3 separate regions of the Homo sapiens genome follow, and regions 1 and 3 are each linked to region 2. Evidence: fine-mapped expression QTL. A gene starts in region 2. Each other region holds a variant in brackets. All regions are shown on one strand. Distances are between the middles of the regions. Region 1 holds the start of CRYGN (crystallin gamma N). Region 2 holds the start of WDR86-AS1 (WDR86 antisense RNA 1). Region 3 overlaps CRYGN (crystallin gamma N).

Region 1 (8,070 bases), 33 kb after region 2:
TGCCTTCATAGAGAGTGATCTAGAAAGGGCAGGTTACAGAGCTCAGGGTCAGGGGCTTCTCTCCGTCAGCGTTGGAGGCTGGCGTCTGGGTCCCAACACCCTGGATGGAACCCCTACTCCCAGGCCCCCAAAAGCCCAGACCTGCTGCACACAGTAGGTGCCCAACACTATTTGCCAATTGGGCAAAAGAACGAACAGCTGGCAGGCTGATGCCATACACAGCTACTGTTCCTCCCCACCCTTAGGAGCTCACAGTGGGGCAGACAAATTTCAGCAGCGATTTGGGGACAGGGGTTTCCCCTTTGTCTAGGTGCCCATTTCAAAATGGGCTGTTTTCAACTTCCACTGCATTTTTAACTCATTTTTTAATTATTAAAACATAAAGCCGATAATAACATTAAAGGAGGTGTTTTCAAAAGAAGAAATTTCACCCACAACCCTCTCATGGTAACCCAGCATATATTTTGCAGAAATTCGGGTTCCTGGGATTGGGCCTCCTTCACTGGAGAGGCTGAATGGGCCGAAGCCGCGTCAGGGCCTGGCTCGGGATTAATGTTCGCAAAAGAGGGCTTATAAGTGCCACCCTGTCTCTCTGTGTTTTGTAGGTCACTCCTTTGGGTAGCAGGCATGTATCAGATCTGGAGCTCCATCACCCTGCTGGGAGTTCAGACATCGTGTCTTATAGCTACGTGGCACTCACAGGTTGTCCTTGTCCCGAAACAAAACAAAGTGAAGCAATAACAACCCGCCAGACTCATTTCCTGCTGTGGAACCTAAAATCTCAACCATTTAGTAACTCTTTGGGTTTCAAGAACTGTGGCCCTAGAAGGGTCCTGCCAGAGTGCAGTGATGTTCCCCATCACTATGGTCGCTTGTGCCTCACCAGTGTCTCCAGTTCGCTCAAAAGAACACGAGAATTGCCCTTCCAGGCCCCTTGGAGTCAGGCGTGGCCACATGCGTTCACCGGAAAGGAGGCAGACACCTTGGCGTTCTGCACCCCAGAGTTACTGGGGCCCTTTGTTACTGAAGCATCACCTGGCCCATGCAGACTGATACAGCAACACAGTCACCCCCAGACACTCTGGAATGTGGCCTTGGAGACCAAAGGCTTCATGGGAGTGGCTAGGCTAGGGGCACTGGAGAGGGCGAGGGAGAGCCAGGTCTCCCGTCCTTCCTGCACCAGGCACGGCTGGTAGAGGGCCCCTGAAACCTTCAGGGAGGTCTGGGCACCAAAGGGATTCGGGGCTCCCTCAAATCTCAACATTTTTCAGAGAACCAGCCCTAAGTGTCCCTGAAGAGACCCTGGGAAGGAAAAGCCATAGAGGCCAGCCTTGGGCAAAGAAGCCGCAGCAGTGGGGCGGAGGGCTGTGGGACAAGCCAAGCCTCCCCCACCCCAAGGAAGCCCCAGGGAGTCTGAACACCCTCCCTGCTCCTGACTGCAGGGCGAGGGGTTGGAATCCCAGAAGGAAGGAGTGGAGATGGAGACCTTCCTATCCATCCACACCAGAGAGGCCCCAGGCCAGTAGCGAGGCCACCCCATTTTATTAAGAAATTAAACCAGCTTCCCTTGGATTTGTCACCATCAACAGTGTGCACCCTCCTGCATCCCCTAGCACAGGGGGCGAAGGCGGAGCCCCACTCGGTTTCCTTGGGGTTGAGGGACGCACTCACCTTCCCCGAGCGCTGCGCCATGGTGCGCCCCGCCCCTTCCGCGGGTCCCCGTTTACACCGGGCAGCGCCCTGCTGGCTCAGCGCCGCCCCGGACAAAAGATTTGCTGGGCCGGCCCCGGAGCGTTAGTGCTGTCGGGCGTGCTAAGCCCGAGGGGCCACCAGGCGGTTGGGACCCGCCGCGGCCACCCTGTGCCACCGCGAGTGCAGCCCGCCCTGCCCGGGGTCTCCCTGTGCTCTCCGCGTTTAGCTCCCGAGCCTCCTTCCTCCCTGAGCCCTCCCGCCCAGCCCGCGGCTGCCCCTGCCCTGCCCTGGAGTGGTGGGGGGAGGAGGGGAGGTGTCTCTCTAGCCCTCCAACCTTTCTTCCCCTGCGCTGCCCCTCAGCCCTCACGCCCATCTCCCTCCCTCCCAAGGCCTGTTCCGAGCTCCCCAGCCCACTCCCCTTTCTCACCTGGCTGCAGGTAGTCTCGCCTTGGTGCCAACTTGTTTGTCTCCACGAGGATGCAACCCAAGCTTCCCCGGACAGACAGACAGCCCTTGACCGCCCCTCCCCTGGCTGCTCTGGTCTGAGCTCCCAGGTCCCCACCTTAGACCTCCGGCTCCAACTCACCCAGCTCCTGATGCACCCCCCCACACCCCACAAAACGCCAGGCCAGGTCAGGCCTCCCTCCTCCCGCTCTCTTCCTGCCTGCCTCCCTCCCTGGCACTCTCCCTCCCTGGGTCCCTCTCTCCTTGAAGATCCTGCCTAGGGTGACCAGGTGACCCGCGCTGCCCTGAGCTGGGGGTACAGTGCTCTGCCCCTTGCCTCTCTGCTGCACCAACTAAGCCACCCTGGACGCCCAGGATCAGTTTACAGCACAAAGCAGCCCCACCGCGGAGGGAGAGTTCCCCAGGGCCCAGAACGAGCACTTGGCAGACAGCAGAGGCTCAGAGATTGTGGAGTGAGCAGAGCGAACATGGAGCCCACAGGATGTGCAGCCCCCACACGGCTGGGGAGATGAGCTGGGAACACAGGACTCATGACTCAGATGGCTGGGGTGGTGGGGGACAGGCTCTGAGATCAAAGGAGAGAGGGGCAGGTGCTCCACAGGGGCTTCTGCTGGAGGGGAGGGAGGAGCTTTGGGGAGGAGTTTGGGCTGCTCTTCCTTCAAACAGTATATTTTTATGACCATTTCACAGATGAGACACTGAGGCCCAGGAAGAGGAGGTTATGTGATTCTTGGGGCAGAGGGGTGACCTTGCCTCTGCTGTGGGAGGTTTTCAAAAGTAGACAGGGTACAAACCAGAACCTGCATGTCACCCTTGAACCCAGGGACGGTCCTCCCTAGGGACGCCCCTCCCTAGGGACGCCGCCCAGCTGCCTCCACTGGCGCCCTTACTTGCCAAGCCACACATTCCAATGTTTCTCTCTGGACCTGGGCCCTGGTGGGGACATAAAATTAAAAACAAAATCTCCAGCCAACCCAGAAAACTTCTCCACGAAGGTAGAAGGAAAAAAAAACAATTTTATTATTGAATAAACTTTAAACTGGAATGCGATCTGCATCACGATCTCTCCCCTAAGAGATCGCAAAGATGGAGAGAGATCTCACTCTTCTGTAGCCAAGCAGACACAACCCACTGCATTCATGTTTTCAGGATAAAATTGCTGATTTTCTTGTATCTCTATGACTGGAGGTGGGTTTTGCAATTTGGAGTCAGGTGACAGCTGAAGTCAGGCTTCT[T/C]AGGAAACGGGGAGGGTGGGGGCACTTACTCCTTGATGTCAAGACTCAAAGAGGCTCCCAGAGGAAACATGACTGAGTTGTTAGACTGGCAAGAGGCTTGTTTAGCCATTAAAAAGATTTACACACATTTGAAAATGACAGAGAAGGAAATTCTGCAAGAAAAGGGAGGAAAGGGAAGCCTCTTCCCTTATTTTCAACAGGGAAAAATAAGCCTTAAAAAAAGGTTTTATTTTTTAGAGCAGCTTTAGGTTCAAGTTGAATTCAGCAAAAGGTACAGCAATTTCCTGTATACCCCCTGCCCCTACACACACACACACACACACACACACACACACACACACACACACAGAGCCTCCTCCACAATCAGCGCCCCCATTAGAGTGGTACATTTGTCACAGCCGATGAACCTATGTTATACATCGGGATACAGGATGAGAAGTTGAGAGAATGCGGCGTAGACTTTGTTAAAATAACACATTTTTAAAGCCTCCCCACATAATGTGGTTGATTTTTCACAGCTTGCTACTCTTTGTCCAGTTGAGTATGTAAGTGTTTGACTCTTAACTTTTTCTTTGGGTCTTCATCTCCTTATAAGGGCTCCCATGCCACATAAAACTTGTATTAAATAAGTTTGTATGCTTTTCTCTTGTTAATCTGTCTTAGGTCAATTTATTTCTCAGGCCCAGCCAGGACCCTAAGAGGATGGAGGTAGAACTTTGCTGCCTCTACAGTGTAATGCCATGGTTCCACCATTAGAGCACCAGGTAGAGTATTCTCACCACCTTAAAAGTCCCCTGTGTGGGCTGGGCACGGCGGCTCACACCTGTAATCCCAGCACTTTGGGAGGCCGGGGCGGGTGGATCACCTAAGGTCAGGAGTTTGAGACCAGCCTGGCCAACAGGGCGAAACCCTGTCTCTACTAAAAATACAAAAACTAGCCAGGCGTGGTGGCAGGCGCCTGTAATCCTAGCTACTCAGGAGGCTGAGGCAGTGAGAATTGCTTGAACCTGGAAGGTGGAGGTTGTAGTGAGCCAAGATTGCGCCACTGCACTCCAGCCTGGACGACAGAGTTAAACTCCGTCTCAAAAAAAAAAAAAAAAAGATAAAAAAAAAAGTCCCCTGGGCTCCATCTGTTTATCCCTCTCTCCCCCTTAACTCCTGGCAACCACTGATCTTTTTACTATCTTCACGGTTTTGCCTTTTTCAGGATGTCATGTATTTGGAATCTTACAGTATGTAGCTACTACGGTTTGAACGTGTCCCCCAAAACACATGTGTTGGAAACTTAATCCCCAATGCAACAATGTTGAAAGATGCGGTCTCATGGGAAGGGTTTAGGTCATGAGGGCTTCACCCTCATTCATGGATTAACGCTGACCATAAAGGGCTACAAGGTCAACCGCTTGCTCTCTCTCACCCTCTCTTTGCCCTTCTCCCATGGGATGATACAGCAAGAAGGCCCTTGAAAGATGCCAGCACCGTGATGTTAGACTTCTCAGCCTCCAGAACTGTGAGCCAGTACATTTGTGTTCATTGTAAATTACCCAGTCTGTGGTATTCTGTTATAGCGGCACAAAACGGACTAAGACAGCAAGTAGCTTTCTCAGATTGGTTTCTTCCACTTAGTAATATGCATTTAAGATTCCCTCATATCTTTTCCTGGCCTAGTCTCTCATTTCTTTTTACTGCTGAATCATGTTCCCTTGTCTGGAAGTACCACAGTTTAGTTATCTATTCATCAATGGAAGGACATTTTGGTTGTGTCCAAGTTTTGGCAATTATGAGGAAAGCTTCTATAAACAACCACGTGTAGATTTTTGTGTGCTCCTTTCACTATACACTAAGGAGTGGGATTGCTGGATCATATGTTACAGGTATGTTTAGTTGTGCAACAAACTGAAAAAAAAATAAAAGCCAGGTGCAGAGGCTTGTACCTGTAATCCCAGCTACTCAGGAGGCTAAGGCAGGAGGATTACTTGAGGCCGGGAGTTCAAGACCAGCTTGGACAACATAGCAAGACCCTGTCTCTAAAAAATTCAAAATCAAATCAAATAAAAAGAAACTGTCAAACTCTCTTTCAAAGTGGCTATATGATTTTTCATTCTGACCATTTGGTGCTATCAAGTTTTGGATTTTAGCCATTCAAATAAGTGTGCAGTGGTGTCTCATTGTTGTTTTAAGAGCTTTTTTTTTTTTTTTTTTTTGAGATGGAGTCTTGCTCTGTCCCCCAGGCAGGAGTGCAGTGATGCGATCTCAGCTCACTGCAATCTCTGCCTCCTAGGTTCAAGCAATTCTCCTGCCTCAGCCTCCCCAGTAGCTGGGACTACAGGTGTGTGCCACCACGCCCAGCTAATTTTTTTTTTTTTTTTTTTTTTTTTTTGGAGATGGAGTCTTGTTCTGTTGCCCAGGCTGGAGTGCAGTGGCGTGATCTCAACTCACTGCAACATCCACCTCCTGGGTTCAAGCGATTCTCCTGCTTCAGCCTCCCGAGTAGCTGGGACTACAGGCACACGCCGCCAAGCCTGGCTAGTTTTTTGTATTTTAGTAGAGATGGGGTTTCACCATGTTGCCCAGGCTGATATCAAACTCCTGAGCTCAGGCAATCCGCCTGCCTTGGCCTCCCAAAGTGCTAGGATTACAGGCGTGAGCCACCGCGCCTGGCCAATTTTTGTATTTTTAGTAGAGATGGGGCTTCACCACGTTGGCCAGGCTGGTCTTGAATGCCTGACCTCAAGTGATCCGCCTGCCTTGGCCTCCCAAAGTGCTGGGATTACAGGTGTGAGCCACTGTGCCCAGCTGAACTTCTTCTTTTTAATTTGTATTTGCCCTCATCACAGCAGGGCCAGAGCACACAGACAACCCAAAAAGGTGATGACAACAGAATCCAAAACAGAAGCAGTGATTTGGGGTGTTTTCTGAGAAATATATATGAAAAAATGCCTAGCTGAAAGCCCCACGCAAAGAATTATTAAAAATGGGTAGATGAATAAGATACCTGCAAATTTCACCTCCATTCCCTATTTCTAATGCAATATCTCAATTCCCACCTGGGATTTTATTATAATTCAGTTACCAGAGGAGGAGTCTGCTAAGATTCATATTATCTATTTGTGGCCAGGTAGAACCCCTCCCCAAAATAGCTACATAATATGCAAATGCCAGTATCACCAAACCTCAACATCAGAGTCATTTTTTTGAGTCATCTTTGGTAGAGCACTGTTAAAATGTACCTTGAGGTAGGTGAGATCTTGAGTCACTATACAGCTGCTAGTTGGGGACAAAATTCTAAGGAAATGGACTGAGAATAAATATCGTGACAGCACAGAAGAAGCAAGGCTAAGAATGCTATCATGGCTTAAAAAATAAAATCTCAATAACATGTAGCCTTAGAACTACCAGTAGCTGCTCAGCATTGGAGAGTTTTACAGCGTGGAGGCTAATGGTTTTAATAATAAATCACCCTGAGCCATCACCCGTTTGCCTGCCTCCCTTCTCTGCCTCTTGTCTCTCCCGTTTTTGGGTAATTTAGAGCACAGAGAAGAATAGGAAATAATATAAGGAACAATAACACCACCATACAAAGTTTGTCAAATCTTAGCATTTTGCCAGGTTTATGTCGGATCAATGTTTTTCCTTAAAATAAGAAATCATTATACATAGAATTGAAGGCTTCCTTCCCCATAAGGATAAGATACTGTCCTGATTTTTGTGTTATGTCTTTGTGTGTTTTCATCTTTTTACTTTCTTTGTATGTATCTGTAAATAATAGAAAATTTTTAGTGTGGCTACATTATATGTAGCCTTCTGCAATTTGGTTTTTTGTTTTAGTGACAAGAGTTTCTGAAATGGTGAATGAACAAAGCTCAGTAGAATTCCTCAGAAAACTAAGTAAAATCTTCCATTTATATATCTAATAAATTGCATACCAGGAAATCTTCAGTATATATTAAAGCCACACAAAAAATACTATGCGTTTCTAGGGGAAATTGTGGGACAGTGTCTCCTTGGATGTGGTGGGATATCCAGCATCCTGGGGCCTGCCCACCCATCCTCCAGCATTCTGACAAACAGAAACACCCTACAAAATTCCAACCACACCCTGGGACCAATACTGCCTCCTTTGAGGCCCATGCCTCTGGGTGAAATTGCTGGGTTGAAGCATGAGTTCACCTTCAAGCCACTAGATGCCACAGAGGTCTTCCAAATTGCCCCACTGACATACAGATGAGATCTACCCTTGGTAGTTCCAAGGCCAGTTGCTCAACATCAGTTCAAATGTATAGCGTTCATTTGAATTGGATCTTTTGTAAATTGCTTGTTCATATGCTTTGCTCATTTTTTTCTGTCTTTCCTTATTGATTATGTGTGTGTGCCTGTGTGTGTGCAAGTGTTTCTTTGTTTTAGAGACAGAGTTTCACTCTGTCACCCAGGCCAGAGTGCAGTGCCACGATCATAGCTCAATGCAGCCCCAAACAACTGGGCTAAGGCATCCTCCTGCTTCAGCCTCCCTTGTAGCTGGGACTAAAGGCACACGCCCACACCCAGCTAGGTTTTTAAAATTTTTTGTAGAGACGGGGTCTCACTATGTTGCCCATGCTGGTCCCGAGTTCCTGGCCTCAAGGGATCCTCCTGCCTTGGCCTCCTAAAGTGCTGGGATTACAGGCATGAGGCACCATGC
Region 2 (8,070 bases):
GCTCCACCTGCATTTTGCAGTGTCCCTTTATTAAACTCTCCTGGTAGAACCCAGTTTCGAGGGTGCTGGGACCCTGAGGCAGGTGACATCTGGGCCCAGAAGCACCAACAGCGTGGCTGGAATGGACACTGACGTGGCCACCAGAGACTTGTAGCAAATCTGCAAGCCCCCACTTTGAACCAAGACCTACGCAGCTTGGCTTTCTGGACTTCTCCGGTGGGAGCGGTCAGTTGCCCCCAAGCTGTGTGAGGCTGCTGTGGCTCTTGTCACCAGCGTGCCGCAGGCCTCCTTCAGCCCAGTCTTCTGGGCCACTGCTCTCCCGCCAGGCTTCACAGGGAGTCTCCTATGCCACCGGCTCCCAGCAAATGGGAATGTGGGGTTGTACCCAGGAAATTAACAACAATCCCCGCCCCCTCATGTTAGAAGACGAGGAAGCGTGTGGGACAGCCACAGTGGGCTGCCACCTTCAGGCTGAGTCCCCTACTCAACAGGAACAGGATAGGATAGGTACTACCATTTTGGAAAATGTCACTCATCTCATTGAACCAATAAAGTGCCCCCAAATAAGGAGATATTCAATGAATAAACCTGAAAAAGAGGAGGTCAGGGATAAGCAAGTGGCAAGTAATTCTTCTCTTTGCAGAGTAATTGCAATGAAGCCTTTTTCACTGTGAGCTCACCAACCGCATTTGAAAGGCAATTCCGTGTATGAACAAGTGAATGCACCCACAGGGAGGGGCTCCCCACACGCCGGTTCTGCAGCCCACTCTCCCTGGGGCCTCCGGGAGCAGCACCTCACCCACCAACCCCGCACGCCACAGGGAACGGCCTTCACTCTTCCTCTCCCTCTCACCCTTTGGCCCAAACTTTCCTAAGCTCTGCGAGACACCCAGGAAAGCCTGCGGTCCCTGATTGCCCCTGCTGCCATGAACAGAGCCAGAGGTCTCTAGAGGAAAAGCGTACGTAGGAGTCGCCAGCCCCAGCCACTCTGCTCGAGAAATCCAGGACCGGCCAACCACAGGCTCTTGTGGGCCCAGAGCTGTGCAAGGGCCAGGACGGAACCAAAGTGGAAAGAGATCTAGATTTAGAGTTAGGATGCTTCTAGGGATGGGGCCACCACAGACCAGCCATGTGGTCTGGACACAACTTCCCCCACAGTGGTAAGAGAAGCACCGTACAGTCTTCAGAAACCCTCTCTGCCATGGACCAGCTGCGGGACCCTGGACAAGTCCTGCCACCGCACCACGCCTCGAGGGATGTTGGCGACAGCACCCACCCCATTATCGATGGTATCTAGAAAACAACAAGAATGCCGTGTATGCTGCTCATGAGTCTGCACCTCCCCACTCTCCTCTGTGAACTGGTGTCAATCCCACCCACCTCAGAGTTGTGAGGATTCATTACACAATAAAAAAGCACAAAGATGTGTTATTTATAAAATATAGGGCACTAAACAAATGTTAAGACATTTTAATAATATTTCACTGATAGAAAAAAAAAATCCTGCAGGAGAAAGGAACTGGCAACACCTTGCTTTCTTTGGGGATCCACACAAAAGGACTGTCACACACTCACAATGACTCTTTTGCAAGTTGAGCGTATCAGTAGAATCTCAGGATAAAGAAAGATGACCTCTGTCCCCGTCCTTGAAAATTCCTGAAAATACCAACCCATATAACAGCAAAAACAATCCTAGCAAAATGGGCCACAGTTCTTTCATTCCAGTGTCCTGCTTGAGCGGGGATAGCCCTGCCCTCAATTAGGGCAGAAGGTTGGGCACCCTCCCTGGGAAGTGAGTGTCAGTACCTCAAGGGGACAAGCAGCCGTGAGGGTCACCAAAGTGGGTGTGAAGGAAGGAGGCACAGGTGCCAGACACAGAGCTGGGCAGGAGGGTGGGCCCTGGAGGCTTGGTGAGGCTCCAGAGCTGCCGTGGGGGCAAAGCCAAGTGCCCACCAGGCTACCGGCAGCCTGGCAAAGCCTGGGGCCTCACTGGGGAGAAACCCCACCTAATTGTGGGCTAAGCTGGGCTCCCACAACCCGTCCCCAGCCCAGGGGCTCCCGGGGCCAGCTGTGCATAAGACCCACCCAAAAGCTTGTTAGAAATGCCAATTCTAGGCCGGGTGCAGTGGCTCACACTTGTAATCTCAGCACTTCGGGAGGCCAAGGCGGGTGGATCACCTGAGGTCGGGAGTTCAAGACCAGCCTGGCCAACATGATGAAGCCCCACGTCTAATAAAAATACAAAAAAATTAGCTGGGCGTGGTGGCGAGCACCTGTAATCCCAGCTATTCAGGAGGCCAAGGCAGGAGAATCGCTTGAACCCGGGAGGCGGAGGTTGCAGTGAGCCAAGATCGTGCCACTGCACTCCAGCCTGGGCAACAAGAGCGAAACTCCATCTCAAAAAACAACAACAAGAAGAAATGCCAGTTCTACAGCCCTATTCATGGAGGACTGCATCACTGGAGCCCAGGCCTGGGGATCTGCATTTCTGAAACACCACCCACCCCTCTACCCCCAAGACAGTCTTATGTTTGGGAGCAATACCAACTGGACTTAACATTTCTAAAAGACCTCATATTTTCCATTCCTGGTTGAATGCCTATAAGTGTGTGTGGCTGTTTGGGGGGGATGTGTGTTAGTTTGTGGCCACCTCTCCATTATCCACACCAACTCCCAAGTAACCGGTAATCCAAAAGTCATCCCTGTTGGGTTTGAAATATCTGCCCTAACTATGTAATATTTTTTTCTTTTCTTTTCTTTTTTTTTTTTTTTTAGACAGAGTCTGGCTCTGTCACCCAGGCTGGAGTGCAGTGGCACGATCTTGGCTCACTGCAACCTCTGCCTCCTGGGTTCAAGTGATTCTCCTGCCTCAGCCTCCCGAGTAGTTGGAATTACAGGCGCCCGCCACCACGCCCAGCTAATTTTTTGTATTTTTATTAGACACAGGGTTTCATCATGTTGGCCAGGCTGGTCTCAAACTCCTGACCTCTGGTGATCCACCCACCTTGGCCTCCCAAAGTGTTGGGATTACAAGTGTGAGCCACCGAGCCTGGTCAACTGTTCTTATTTAAAACCAGCAGTATCAGGATTAGCCAATATTGGGGCTAATATCCTACCTAAGTTGGAAGGCCTGGGCGAGGCCACAGAGAGTTCACTGATGATGGTGGAAAAGCCCGCGGTGATAAAGAACTACCCACAGCAGAAAGCCTCGCGGCTCATCCAGGGGACTACGTGTGCTACCTGGGCAGTAGGAGGGCCAGAGCTGAAAGGGACCTCACAGTGCATGGGACAGGCCCAGGGGAAGGTGCACCCGAGGCACACTGACCTCCTGAGTGAGTACAGGGCACAAATAGAAACCAACAGGCATGCAGGCAGGGTTTACAGCAATGAGAGGGCTCAGACTGCCATCTACCCCTCACTGGCTGTGCGACCTGGGCGAATTACTTAACTCCCAGCCTGTTTCCACGTCTGTATGTGGGGTAACATAGTGTGACGACGGCACACTTCTCCGCACCGCTGGCCCTTAACAAGCGTCTACTGTTGCTGTGAGAGTCGTCAACAGGAAATGCCAGCAGAAGAGCACAATTGGCCACAAAGAGGCCACAAGGCACCTAGAGACAAGGGAAGGTTTGCTTAGAAGGAGTATAGGTGCAACTTTTTGTTTGTTAACATTGTTGTCAAGGGAGATTTCCTGCCGCTGGTTGACAAATGATCTTCGCCTTTGTAGCGGACGCCCCTCGACCCACCCACCCGATCCCGGCCGCACCCTGCTCTGCACCCGCACCCCACCCCCAGACCTCACCCTGCCCTGCCGTGCGCTCAACAGCCAGATGCTGGGCCCAGACAAGCGCTCTTCCGCTAGTGTGCCGGGATGAGCGGGGGCTGGACTTCTAGAAAGGGGTCTGCGGGCGCAGGAGCTGGGGTCCGCGGTCTGGGGCCGGTGAGCTGCGGCGAAGAGGTCAGGGAGGGAGTGGGAGGGTCTACCTTGCAGGAGCGCGCAGCACTGGCCGTCCGCGGTGCTCCAGAGCCGGGCCGTGCCGTCCTCGCTGCCCGTCAGCAGGCGCTGCCCGTCGGGGCTCAGGCTCAGCCAGTTGATGCCCCCGCGGTGGTCGGCGCAGACCCTCAGGGCCGACCCGCCGCCCCCCATCCCGCTGGCAGGGCGGGGAACAAGAAGGAGCTGCGCCCCGCTAGGGAGGGGCGCCCCGGGGTCCGCGCGGCGGCTCCGTACGACTGCGGCCCGCGGCCATCGCGGGGAACGGGGAGCCCGACTCCTGCGGAGGCACGCGGCGAGGGGAGGGTGAAGGACCCTAGCTCCCCGCTGCCTCCAGCCTCTGGGCCCGCGAACCCAGGGCGCTGCGGGGGGCGGCCCACTCGGGACCTCCGCCCTGGGTAGAGTCCTGGGCGCGCGGGCAGAGAGAACCCCCTTCCCAGCACCGCTCGGAGGATCCACACCCCACCGGGCGAACAAGGCAGCTGCGTCTCTGGTGCACAAGGAGCCCCCCGCCTCCTCTCGCGCCCACGGGGCTGGGGCGGGGAGAGGAACACGGGAAGCCGAGCGCCCCGCGCCCTCCCCGGCCGAGCGCGGAACAATACGGTCCAGCCTGGCTCCTCCTCAGAGACCACCCCTCACCCGATCCCCTCCCACTTCTCGGGCTGCGCCCCAGCCCCCACCCCGCGCGCCTGCAGCCTCCCCCCTTCGTCGCTGTGCGGGTCCGGGGGACGGCTCCACGTGCGACCCTCCTAGCTGCCCGGGCTGCGCCTCTGGGCTCTGGCCTCTGCCACCTCCGCCGCCGCCGCCTGGGTCCCCTGAGCCAAGGGCCGGGACGAGGGAGGGGGAGGCGGACAAAGGGTCGGGGTCGGGGAGAATCGCGCGCCGGGAACTCATTTGGGGCGCAGCTCCACCGACCCCTCGGCTACTCGCCTCCACCAGGCAAGCCAGGTCCTCCCATGCTCTGAGCCCTAAGGACTCTGCCCGAGGGGCTCTCGGGGACTTGGGGGCGGTCCCCCAATGGAGGGTGCGACAGGGAAAGCCCCGAGTCCGCCCTCCCTGGGAAATCACGCGCACACCCAGGATTCTACTTTGGTCTGGCCGGAGTGGGGATGAGGTGCGAGCCGCTGCGGGGTCGGTGGAGCCGGGATGTCAAGTTCACCTTCCAGCCGCCGCGGGCTCCCTCGGCCTGGGGCGCCTCTAATGGACCCCGGGGTCGGCCTGAGCCCTCCCGGAGCGCCCGGCGGCTGGTTTCCATTAGGGCAGTTCCGGCGCCGACTTCGCTGGGGACGGGGAAGGTGACCCCCCTACTCGGATCCCCCAGGTCCTAAAGGTAGCAGGATTTCCAGAACGCTCCAGGGCTCTCTCAGGAGCCTAGGGAGAAGGGCAAGGAAGGGGCGTCTTTGGCGAGCTAGCCCGCAATGGGACGACCAGTACTGCACGCTCTGCTCTATCCAGACTCCAAAAGAAAACCCCATCGTGGGGTGTCCCAGGCCGTTGGGTCGTTTATACCCAGAGTGGCCTAACCAGAGAAATCCGTTCTTTTCCCTCAAAACTTGTAAAGCAGCTGGCGCCTCAGCTTAAGGAGCGTGGCCCTTCCTTAGCAGGTGGTGGAGAGAGGGGCAGTGGAGGAGCGTTAGGACGAGATTTGGGGTCATCCAGCCGGAGAGAGGGAGGCCGAAAGGAGAGACGTTTTCAGGAGGTGGAGGCTTCAGCATTTGGATGCCTGCGAGGCGGGAGAGGCCGGGGAGCCTGTCTTGTGCTGAGAGGCTGGGTAGACTGTTTTGTCCCCTACAGGCTGATCACCAGTTCCTCTTAGGAACCGGTGAACCTCAGGGGGCCCATTGCACATCCAGGTGTGAAACTGCGGTGTGGCCTCCAGGTGAGGACAGACTCGGTATAGTGGGGATCTTGGGCAGGCCCTGCGGCTGCAGCCCTTGGGGAAGGTGAATGTGAGGACCATGGAGGCTGGGAGGGTTTATCCGGAGAAGTGCCAGAGGAAACCCAAACTTTCTGGGCAGAGGGGCCAAGGAGAACCAGGCATCGACTCTTTTGGAAACTAAGAGGGGAGGGGTTTGAAAGCAGTTTGGGAGCTGGGGACAGATCGTAGGTTGGGCGAGCTTGCCTGGTCGTGGGCCAGAGGAAAGAACCACCAGGAGAAAAGCTTAACTTTCAAGGAGGTCACCCAGGATTCCTGAGCAAGGTGGCACCCATGCACTCTGGTTCCTCTCCTCTGCAGCCAACACAAGCCATCAGCCCCATGCTCAGCTCCCAGCAGGCAGAGCGTTCAGAAGCGCCAGCGCCATCATCTTGGGAGCCTGCAGTCCACACACCGCTGACCTTACCTACTTCCTCTTTCCAGGTTGATAGATTTTTTGTTCTTGGCTTCTCCACCTCCCCCACCCCTCCTTCTCCGGTTTGGCACAAAGTGGCCCCCTGGTGGGGATGAGCCAGCCATCTCTGGGGGTTGAGTCTGGACTGTAGAGCTGTGGGTGCAGATGTCCTCAGCCAGCCTGTCTTCCCTTTTCTCTTGCAGGTCGTAGATTACAGACTCTCCTCTGGGAAATTGCCCCCAGATCTAACAGGAGTACAAGAAGCTGGGTAGATTGGAAAACAGCACCGAATTCCCCTGGAACTGAGGTCTCCCCTAATTCCCCTGAAACTGGGGTCTCCCCCAACCTCCACCTTAAGATAGCAAAGCTATAGAGACCCAGGAGTCAGGCTGGGTCCCCAGCAGAACCTGGGCTCCCTTCCCCTTTCACACCTTTAACTCTTCTGGAGCCTCCAAGAGGGCCTGGAGTCCCGTGGTGCCCAGGCCCTCCTGGACCTAATCACTTTATAAATGGAAGGCACCTTGGGAAGGGAACCTGGTAGGGTGTAGGAGGAAATGGTTAAGCTTTAAGAAGCAAGAAATGGGCAGTGTTTAACAAGTGAAGGGTTGGGGGGCGGGTGCATTTTGTGCCAGGGAGTGCTCATTCCCCGTGCCACAGGGACTGCCACAATTTACCCTGCTGGAAAGAGTGACCCTCTGGGGCCTCTCTGAGAAGCATGGTGAAAGCTGGATATTCCTGAGTTGTGTGTGTGTGTGTGTGTGTAGGTGGTGACAGAGGGAGGCACCTTGAGGGGCGCCCACAGGGAACGTCATAGCCAGAGCTTTGTCAGAATTGCTTTTTCCCTTCTGGCACAACCTGCAATGCTGGTGGTGAGGGTGCCTGTGGTCATCATCTTCATAGTTTGGGTACTTACTGTGTGTCAGGTACTGTGCTAAGTGCTAGTATTTTTCAACAGGACGGAAGCCTTCCCAGTCCTGCAGCCACCTGCAGACTCTCACAAGCACGGTGCTCCCGGGAGAAGACCTTGCTACCCCAGGCCCAAGGCAGTCGAGAGAAAACGGGAAGCCCTGAAGGTTTTTCACCCCGGGGGTGAGAGTGTATGATCGAAGATATATTTGAGGGTAATTGTACAGATAGTCCCAACTTAGCATTGTTCAACTTTATGATGGTATGAAAGTGATGACATTCAGTAGAAATTGTACTTCAAGTGCCAATACAATCAGTTTTTCACTTTTGGTGCAGTATTCAATAAATTACATGAGATATTCAACACTTTACTTTAAAATAGGCTTTGTGTAAGATGATTCTGCCCAAATGTAAGGCTGATGCCAGTGCTCTGAGCACATTTAAGGGAAAGCTGGGCTAAGCAATGATGTTCCACAAGTTAGGCATATTAAATGCATTTTTGACTTAGAATATTCTCAACTTGCAATGGGTTTATCAGAACATGACATCGTTAATCACTCAAGGAGCATCTGTACCACTAATGACATAGATGCTGGTTGCAGGAAGGCAGCCAGAGGAGGGCACAGTGTGGAAGAACTCAACTTTTTAAAGACAGAGATCAGCTTTAAATATTGCTAAGAAAGAACTTGGAGAGAGAAGTTGGTGATACCGGAGACAGCAGGCAACAGACAGAGTGAGAGGCCCGAAGAACAAGAGGAGGAGGGAGTCTCTTCTGGGAGCAGAAGGAGTGTCGACTTAAATATTAGGGAGCCAAAGATGAACCTCGCAGAGAACCTGCAAAAC
Region 3 (8,070 bases), 21 kb after region 2:
GGGACTATTTGTGACACAGCTGTGTTAGTTTTATATCTAATGACCTACATGTGAGTCTCAGTCAAAAAGATTGGGAAGCCGTTGCCACAGGGGATGATGTGTAGAGGGGGTTAGGTGTGGGCTGGGGTCAGACGGCCAGGGGCACTTGGCCTTTTTGGCCATTTATGGCACACATTTGGGCAAGTTACAATCATCCTTTTAGGTCTATTTCTTCCATTGTAAAAGAGAGAAAATAATATACCCACCTTGTTATATGTAAAAAATGGGTTAGCACACAGTTTGTGTCATAGTAATTACCCAAGAAAATGCTGTTGGTATTGGTATCTACTGATAACCAGTCATTGCCAGGTCCCGCTTTCATGACCCAATTAGGTTCACTTAAAAGTAGCAATATACTCATACGTAAACCAGAAATGTTAAAATCTCCTCCCCCACAAAAAGTTGACTTTGGCACAGTGCCGTCCACCGAATCCTGTGGGATGCTATTACAGAAAATCCTAGGAAACCTGTTAATTTCCCCGCAGGAGGGCTAACGTTGAGGGTGCAGCTTGTGAGTCATCGGCATGGGGCCAGCGGACCCGTGGAAGAAACTTCTCTCTGGCCTCGGTCCCAGGAATTGCTGGGCTTCTTCCGGAAAACTAGCTTCCTTTCATCTTTGGGACTGAGCGAATGATGGAGCTGATCCTGTTTCCCTGCTTGCTTTGGCCCAATTAGCAGTTCCTCTCTAGCAGACAGCACAGGACTTGTGGCGGGGAGAATATTATGGATGCCTCGCTTTTTTCTACAACATTTTTCTAAGTCCCCTCTGCCGCAAAGATTTCTTCCCCTACTTTTTGTATCTGCGTTTTTATCACAATGGGCTCCTCCCCTGGCCTTGGGCCCAGTGCCTCCAAGGATAAAGCAACACTTGAGCGTCCCCTCTGTGTGTAGAGGTGACACCACCTCGGCCATCACCAGCCCCATGAAGGGACTTCTACCCAGCAGCCCCACTGGGTGGGAGCGCCCATTTCTACTGCCCGCATGTCTGTCTGTGCAGTTTAGGAATGCCAGGGCTGGTGCTTAGGCTGGGCACACTGTGCGGGGGACATGCCGCCCTGCTCCCTGTGCCTGGCACCTAGAAATGAACACTTTACGGGAATGGAACCCAGGGCACGACCATCTCAGCCCGCGGAACGATCCAGCCCAACTGGTGAGAACTCCCGCTCTTGGTGTTGGGGGCCAGGCAGGGTTCGTGGAGAGGGTCCTTATAACCTGCTCAGCCCCCTAGCCAGAGCAATCCTACACATCGCTGAGCCCTCTTCGGGATGAGAATGCGCACCCTCAGCCCAGCCGTATCCTCTGCCCCTGCCCCTGCCCCTACCCAGGGAGGGCAGTCCTGGGGGTCCCAGGGCAGGCATGGACCAGGACTAGCGTTACCAGCACTGACCTGCCCAGTCCATCCCCCAGCCCCAGCAAGGCTGGGTCCAGGGCTTCCACCCCTCCATGCACAGCCCACGCCAGCTGGGTTCCACAGGATCCTTTTAAATCACAATTCCAAAGCGGGCTGTCCACAGGCAAGGAAGCCAGGAGCCTGTTCACACAAATGCTCGCTGTTCAGGGCAGGCTGCCCAAGTCACCCCTTCCTGGTGTCCCCAGACCTGGGCTACTAAGTCCTGGGGGTCCGGAAGGCAGGGTTAGTCCCAGGTAACCACAGGGACGCTCCAGGGATCCCTGCTGAAGGACAAGGACCTTCTCCTCCTCCTCCTCTTCCTCCTCCTGCATCTCAGCCTCCCCAGCAGCCACAGCCAAGAGCCCTGCCAAGCCGATGGGACCCACGCAATCAATAAGCAGGTGATAGCTTCTTCAGGTAGGGAATGTGGGGCATGGTCGCACAGGAGACCCACAGGGTTCCCTGGGATCCAGCGAGGGCCTTCATTCCCACATTGCCCCCAACAGTCCTGAGCACCTCAGCAACAAGGAGTTAATTTTTTTTGATTATGGCAAAATACACATACAATTTATCATCCTAACCATTTGAAGTGTGTGGTTGAGTGGCATTAAGTACACACACATAGTCGTGCGGCCGTCAGCACCATCTGTCTGTCTCCAGAAGTCTGTCATCTTCACAAACTGAAACTCTGGAGCTAAACCTTTAAAACTGTCTCATTTGACAAGTTTTTTGTTAGTTTGTCTTTTTCTTTCTTCTTTTTTTTTTTTTTTTTTTGACGTCCCTGGGCTCAAACTCATCCAACAGGCTTTGATTGAAGATCTGTTGTGGCTTCCTGGGGGGAACACAGGCAGGACAGCCCTGCTCTTAAGGCACCCAGTGGGGTGAAGAGGTGAGCCAAGAAGCCTCCAGCCAAGAAGGCGGTAGCCTGCCAGGCGCAGGCCACCTCGGGGCATGGGAGGGAGGCCCAGGAAGGGGAAGGGGCCAACAGAGACTTCTTGGACCAGCCCTTGGCTGGTGAGAGGAACTTCTTGGTGCGGGGGATGGGGTGGCTGGGGGGATTCAAAGGGAATGTTTTTCCTGTGGTCAGACTGGGCCTGATAAACAGTGCACGGGGGGCCAGCAGGGCAGGGGGACCTAGGGCTGAGGACATGAGGGGATGGCTCTGTGAAAGTCCCAGCTTTCCAAACCACAGAGGGAGGTAGAAATATGTGAAGCATGTGTGGCTCTTGAGGGCCTCTCACCCTCGGTCCATCGACCCCTGGACGGACTTCAGATAAATTACAAGCTGCCCACAAGCACTTTGGTGGGAATCTTGTTTTTCCTCTTTCAGACAAAAAGCAGATTTGCTGACAGATTAGGGAGCAGGGGGCTGGGGTGAGGGGGAGGTCACCCAGGAGCACAAAGCCCATTCGAGAAGCATTAAATCACCAGTTAATGAGATGCTGCTAAGCCTTGGTGCTGGGGAGGAGAGGAAGAGTTCAGGGGAAGCCTCTGGAACTCATGGGAAGGGCTGCTAGGCCTGGTTTTTCCCGTGACTCCCAAGGACCTGGACTGAACCGGTGGGGCCTGCAGTTCTCATTTCATTCCCCAGGCATTAATTGCCTATGAGGGGGCGGAATGATTACCACTGCTGTACGTCTGAAGACACTGAGACACACAGCAGTGGCTTCTCCAATGTCACATCCTAGTGAGGGATGGAGTGGGAATCAGGTTGGAGTTTGGAGCCAAGTTACCTTCTCTCCTGTGATGCCACTCCCCTGCCTGCTTCCCCACCCCGTCACCTACTGGGTCACCTACTACTAACCAGCCCTCATATGGCACCCGCTCATGGGTCACGCCTTTGGCTTTTACAAGGGTATACAGTTGGTACAGCAGACATGATTGCACTCATTTCACAGAACAGGGTCTGAGGCCTGGAGAGGCTTTGGGTTTGCGCCAAATTCATGACAAAAATATATCTAAATATGCAAATGTGTGGTGCTCTATAGAGGAGTGGTTAGGAACGAAAAGGATCAATCAGCCAGCCAGACCTGGGTTTTAGTCCTGACTGCTGTGTGACCCTGGGCAAGTTGCTTAACCTGTCTGTGGCTGGCTCTCCTCAACTGTACAGTGGTGATAAGCATATCATCTTGGCATTATTGTATATGATAAGTAAAATTACACAGATTCCAGCTACTACAGAGCCTGGCATTAAGTCAGTGCTCCATAAATATTCATCAACATCATCACCATCATCAGCTGTGGGCTGAGGTGCGAGATTGTGGAGGCCTGAGGCCAGCAGGGTGCCAAGGCCCAAGGAGGCTGTGGGGTGGAGGGTTGGACGGCTGTTTCAGAAGAGACAGGGCCCTTGCCATGGGTGGGGAGGGCCTCCCGCTGGCAGATATGACACACAGAAGGCTCCACCTCCCTAACAAACTGGCAGAGAAATGAAAACTGAGGGCATGATTTTAAGTAAACACTCTCCCGGCTCAGAAACGGTGCAGGTGCATTTACATGTCAATCGGTTCCAGGCTCAGAGGTTTGCAGTCAGGAAAGGTGGCTGGGTTGTTGCTGGTTTTGT[G/T]GTGGCCTCTTCCGGTCCTTGATCTGATTGAAGAGAGCTGCTCAGCTGGAAGTCCTCAGCTCCGAAGCTTCTAGGGCTCCATGCTCTGTGGTTTGCAGGTGAAAGGAGGTGGGGCCAGGGCATTAGGGGTACAGAGCAGGCCTTTTGGGGACCCATCTACCACATGGCAGCAGGGAGCCCCTTCCCCTTTCCTGGGCGGAGTGGACGGTTGCCTAGTGGTTTCATGTCTTCATTTGGCCTCGGCTGTCATGGGACAGCCTACGGGGGTCCCACAGCAGTCATGGGGCCCCTCCGTCTTTGCCACCCAGCTCTTGGTGGGGAATTGTCTTGGGTGAATTGGGTGACCCATCGTGACTCTTTTTCCATTGCTCTCTCAGTGAGGGATGGGGAGAGGTTGGAGGACACCCAGGAACGGGACAGCCATCCCCTGGCCCACCACACTCAGGCCACCACACTGTGCGACAGAATCAGCCCCTGAGATTTTGTTTTTCTCTCGGGAACCCTGTGTTCCCTCGCTGAGCTCCCTGCCGTACTCCATCACCCCCTAGGCCTGTCGGGGTGTCTCAGTTCAACTCAGATAGTAACCCAGGGCTCATGGGCTTTCCCTCGGAGTCCTGAGCTGGGCGACCAGCCTAGAGGGGCTGATCCCCAGTCCAAACCCCTCCATCTACTCAGAAAACTGGAGTAAGATGTATGGTGAGGAGGACCCGGGAACTGAGAGGCCAGTCGGGAGCCAGTTGGTTGGGGGGACTCTGGGATCGCAGTCGGGGATTAGAGGCTGGACCAGGAGTCAGATCCACAGCCAGAACTCTGTGGGCACACGGGTGATCCAACCCATGCACCTGGCCCCCCACTGATCCCTCATCCAGCCAGGCCTTGGTCCAGGCACAGGCCATGTGGACATCTTTGGGGTCTCCATGTCCAGGAGCCCCCATGCTCAGGAATCTCGGGTCCAGGGCCCCTGTGTTCTCCTCAGAAGCCCAGAGCACTCCATCTGTTGCCTCCTTCTGGGGTGGGCTATGGTTTCCTCACAGGCAGGCTCCATTCAGGACTCTGCTGGAGGGCTGCCGGCAGCAGGGAGTTACCTGGGCCACCCCCAGGGACCAGAGTTCCCCTCGTGGGACCTTTCCTCTCTCCCCAGTGAGTTGGAAGCATAGGCGTGGGTGGGGAGGGAGTGGGGGGATGCTTTTGGGGACGTGGACCTCTTATGCCCAGGAATCCCACTGCCTGGGCCGAGTATCTCCTTCCAGGACAGACTTCTCCCTCCCCTCTGCCCCTCAAGGGTGGGGTGTCCCCTCTAGATTCAAGCCCACCCCAACAGGAGGACCCAGTGTCCTGGAGAGGGCCCAGGAATGGAGGAATTCTACAGGCGAGCGCTTGGTGCTGCACCAGCTGAAGACGCGAGCCGCCGGTTCTGGGTCTGCCAGCCCTACTGCTCCAGGGGCTATGGCTGCAGCAGACACGCCCCATGCCCCTTTCTCCCCGAAAGCCCCTCCATTCCCACAGAGCCCACCTGTTCAAGCTAAGCCCCCACCCTGACACTCACCACCACTAACTGTTTTCTCTCTCGCAGGAGAGGGGTCTGCCCTGGGTCGAAACCATCCTTCCAGAGGGGTCTCCCTTAGAAACTCCGAGGCCAAGATTAGCCATGAGGATAAAACCCAGAGATCAGACACAGAGACCCTGGGTCAGGCCTTTGGCCACATGGCCTGGCAGCCTCACCTTGCCGAGTCACAGAGAGGCAGAGCCCCAAGCGAGCCTGGGGAGTCCTGAACCGGCCTGGGTTCCGGCCCTGCCCCATCCCCATTGCTTCTCACCACCTCTCCCCACCACTCTCCCCTCCCTGGCCCAGGGGGTCCCTGGGAGTCCGGGAAAGCGCCCTGGATCATCCAGCTCCTCCCAGGGCTGGGATGCCCACTGCCGAGAGAGCACTCAGAAGCCGCCCGTTGGCTTTGAGGACTTTTATCGCCCAAGGTCCCGAGGTCTGGGTGGGACCGCAAGGGGTTGCCCCTGTCCCCAGAGCTGCGCCCGGCCATCCCGGTGGGAGGGCTCGGCTGGAAGAAGTTGACCACCTTGTGGAGCGACTGCACTCGTGCGCTGTGGGCCTCCCAGTCCGAGAAGCTGCGGAAGTCGCCACTCTCCACCACGTACATGCGGCCGTGGTAGTTGGGCTCCTCATACAGGACCCACCTGGAGGCCAGGGGAGTGGGGATCAGGGGCTGCCAGGAAGTCCCCCGGGACTCCGGAGAGAAAAGCCTGCACAGCCTGGCCACCCAGCAACCCCTCCCGGTCGAGCGGCCCCTTCACTCTGGGCTACACGAAGGCACCCACGGTGCCTTCCCCAGTGCCCTGTGGGGTCCATGCTGGGGTGTGACATGTGTGGGGACAGGCCCAGTAATGTCCACATTTTAAAACTGACCAGTCCTGGCCGGGCATGGGGGCTCACGCCTGTAATCTCAGAATTTTGGGAGGCCGAGGCAGGCAGATCTCTTGTAGTCAGGAGTTTGAGAGCAGCCCGGCCAACGTGGTGAAACCCCGTCTCTACTAAAAATACAAAAATTAGCTGGGTGTGGTGGTGGGCACCTGTAATCCCAGCTACTTGGGAGACTGAGGCAAGATAATTGCTTGAACCAGGGAGGCGGAGGTTGCAGTGAGCCGAGATTGCGCCACTGCATTTCAGCCATCCTTGGCAAGGATGCACTCCCGCCATCACTGCACGCCCCACACACTCCTGTTCCCTGATAAGGACCACCTTGCACAGACAGTACCCCCAGCACCTGGTGGGGGGCCTGGCACAGAGGGCACCGTTCATTCAGTGAATGCCAGCAGGTTCCCACATGTGTGCCCAACACTGTGTCAGGTACCAGAGGTGCCATGGTCACACAACACGGTTCCTGCCCCCTCCTGCCCTCACGGGGCCTCCCCTGCAGAGGAAATGGGCTGTGGGGGTGCAGTTGCATGGAGGAGCCTGCAGGGCACAGAGGAGGGTTGGGGAGTCCCAAGCAGGGCCCCTTCCTGTCCTCCTCCCCTTCTGCACACCACTGGGGCAGCCACCAACAACCCAGAGAGCAGAAACAGTCAGGACAAGTCTTTACAGAGCCTGGAGGACCTCGGGCTGGTGGGGGCAGGAGAGAACACAGCTCTTCATCACCCAGGAAGCTGTGGGCCCGGCCCAGAAAAGCAGGAAGGTGCGGTGGGGAGGGAACGGGGGACCAGGAGGAAGGGACTGGAGGTCCAGGATAGTGGCCTTTGCCTGGAAAGGGGCATGTGGTCCAAGGAAGACACCTCAGGACAGCTCGGAGCAGGGGCTGGCCCAACCCTGTCCTTCCCTCACCATCTCTGAGACGAGTGAGGCTTGTCATGCCTGGTGCCTGGCACAGTCTGCTGCCTCAAGGGTTGGGGCCAGGAAGGAAGAGAGAGAGGCAGAGGGTGTGAGCCAGCCTGGAGCACCTGCTGGGGGACTCAGGGCAGGCCTGGTCCAGCCTGGACCCCACCCTCATGGCCCCCGTATCCATGCCCCTCCACACCTACAGCTTTCCAACCCCACACCTGTGCCACAGCTGGGGCCTCAGAGGCACCTCAGAGAGTCAGCTGGTCCTTTCCTACCCTGTGGTGGGCAAGAAATGCCCCAAGCCATGTCCTGGGCCACATGAGGGTTCTCACATGGACACCCCCAAAAGGAGGGGGCGGGGAACCACCCATCCTGCTGTCCCCTGTCCTGGCTGTGGCTACTGGGAGGAGGCAGACAGAGGAAAGGGCAGGGGCCTGTCCTGCCCACATCAGCACCGTGCCCTTCCCCAGGTGAGGGTAGGTGGAGGCAGAACGCCAGTGCATTTCCCTCCGAGAGCCCACCAGGACACGGGTCTGAGGGGATGGGTCATGCCTGGGCTGATGTGGGACCCAGAGGGAAGGAGTCTTGGCAGTGGGAGGTGGTGGAGGGACCCTGCCTTGCCCACTCCCCCGACCCCAGGAAAGGCCTCCTAGCAGTGTCCCCTCCGGATCGAGGGGACCTGGGGGCGTTACCTCCTTGACAAGGGCTTACATTTGTGTAAGAGTAAGAGTCTTAGGCGGCAAAGGCTGA

Evidence for each region.
Region 1: its variant is fine-mapped to the expression of WDR86-AS1 in whole blood (TOPMed, PIP above 0.99). The same link has a PIP of 0.9 or more in blood mononuclear cells.
Region 3: its variant is fine-mapped to the expression of WDR86-AS1 in whole blood (TOPMed, PIP above 0.99).

The regions. Positions count from the first base shown.
Region 1 is chr7:151,438,226-151,446,295 of GRCh38, forward strand. CRYGN (crystallin gamma N) reads right to left here and starts at 1,916. Exons shown (of 4, transcript NM_144727.3): 1 at 1,672-1,916; 2 at 1-19. The coding sequence starts at 1,692. RefSeq lists enhancers at 1-333, 695-1,195, 1,196-1,696, 2,408-2,944. The variant T/C (reference allele first, on the strand shown) is at 3,393.
Region 2 is chr7:151,405,443-151,413,512 of GRCh38, forward strand. It overlaps WDR86-AS1 (WDR86 antisense RNA 1), which reads left to right and starts at 3,719. Exons shown (of 6, transcript NR_109857.1): 1 at 3,719-3,940; 2 at 5,786-5,870; 3 at 6,228-6,350; 4 at 6,525-6,628; 5 at 7,277-7,410; 6 at 7,830-7,912. WDR86 (WD repeat domain 86) reads right to left here and starts at 4,596. Exons shown (of 6, transcript NM_198285.3): 1 at 3,985-4,596. The coding sequence starts at 4,147. RefSeq lists an enhancer at 5,162-5,794.
Region 3 is chr7:151,426,107-151,434,176 of GRCh38, forward strand. It overlaps CRYGN (crystallin gamma N), which reads right to left. Exons shown (of 4, transcript NM_144727.3): 4 at 2,726-4,074. The coding sequence ends at 3,942. LOC124901780 reads right to left here. Exons shown (of 1, transcript XM_047421163.1): 1 at 6,186-8,070. The coding sequence starts at 7,351. The coding sequence ends at 6,446. MIR3907 (microRNA 3907) reads right to left here and starts at 7,533; the gene lies at 7,383-7,533. RefSeq lists enhancers at 2,405-2,924, 3,702-3,771, 4,092-4,291, 6,713-6,812, 7,083-7,172. The variant G/T (reference allele first, on the strand shown) is at 3,990.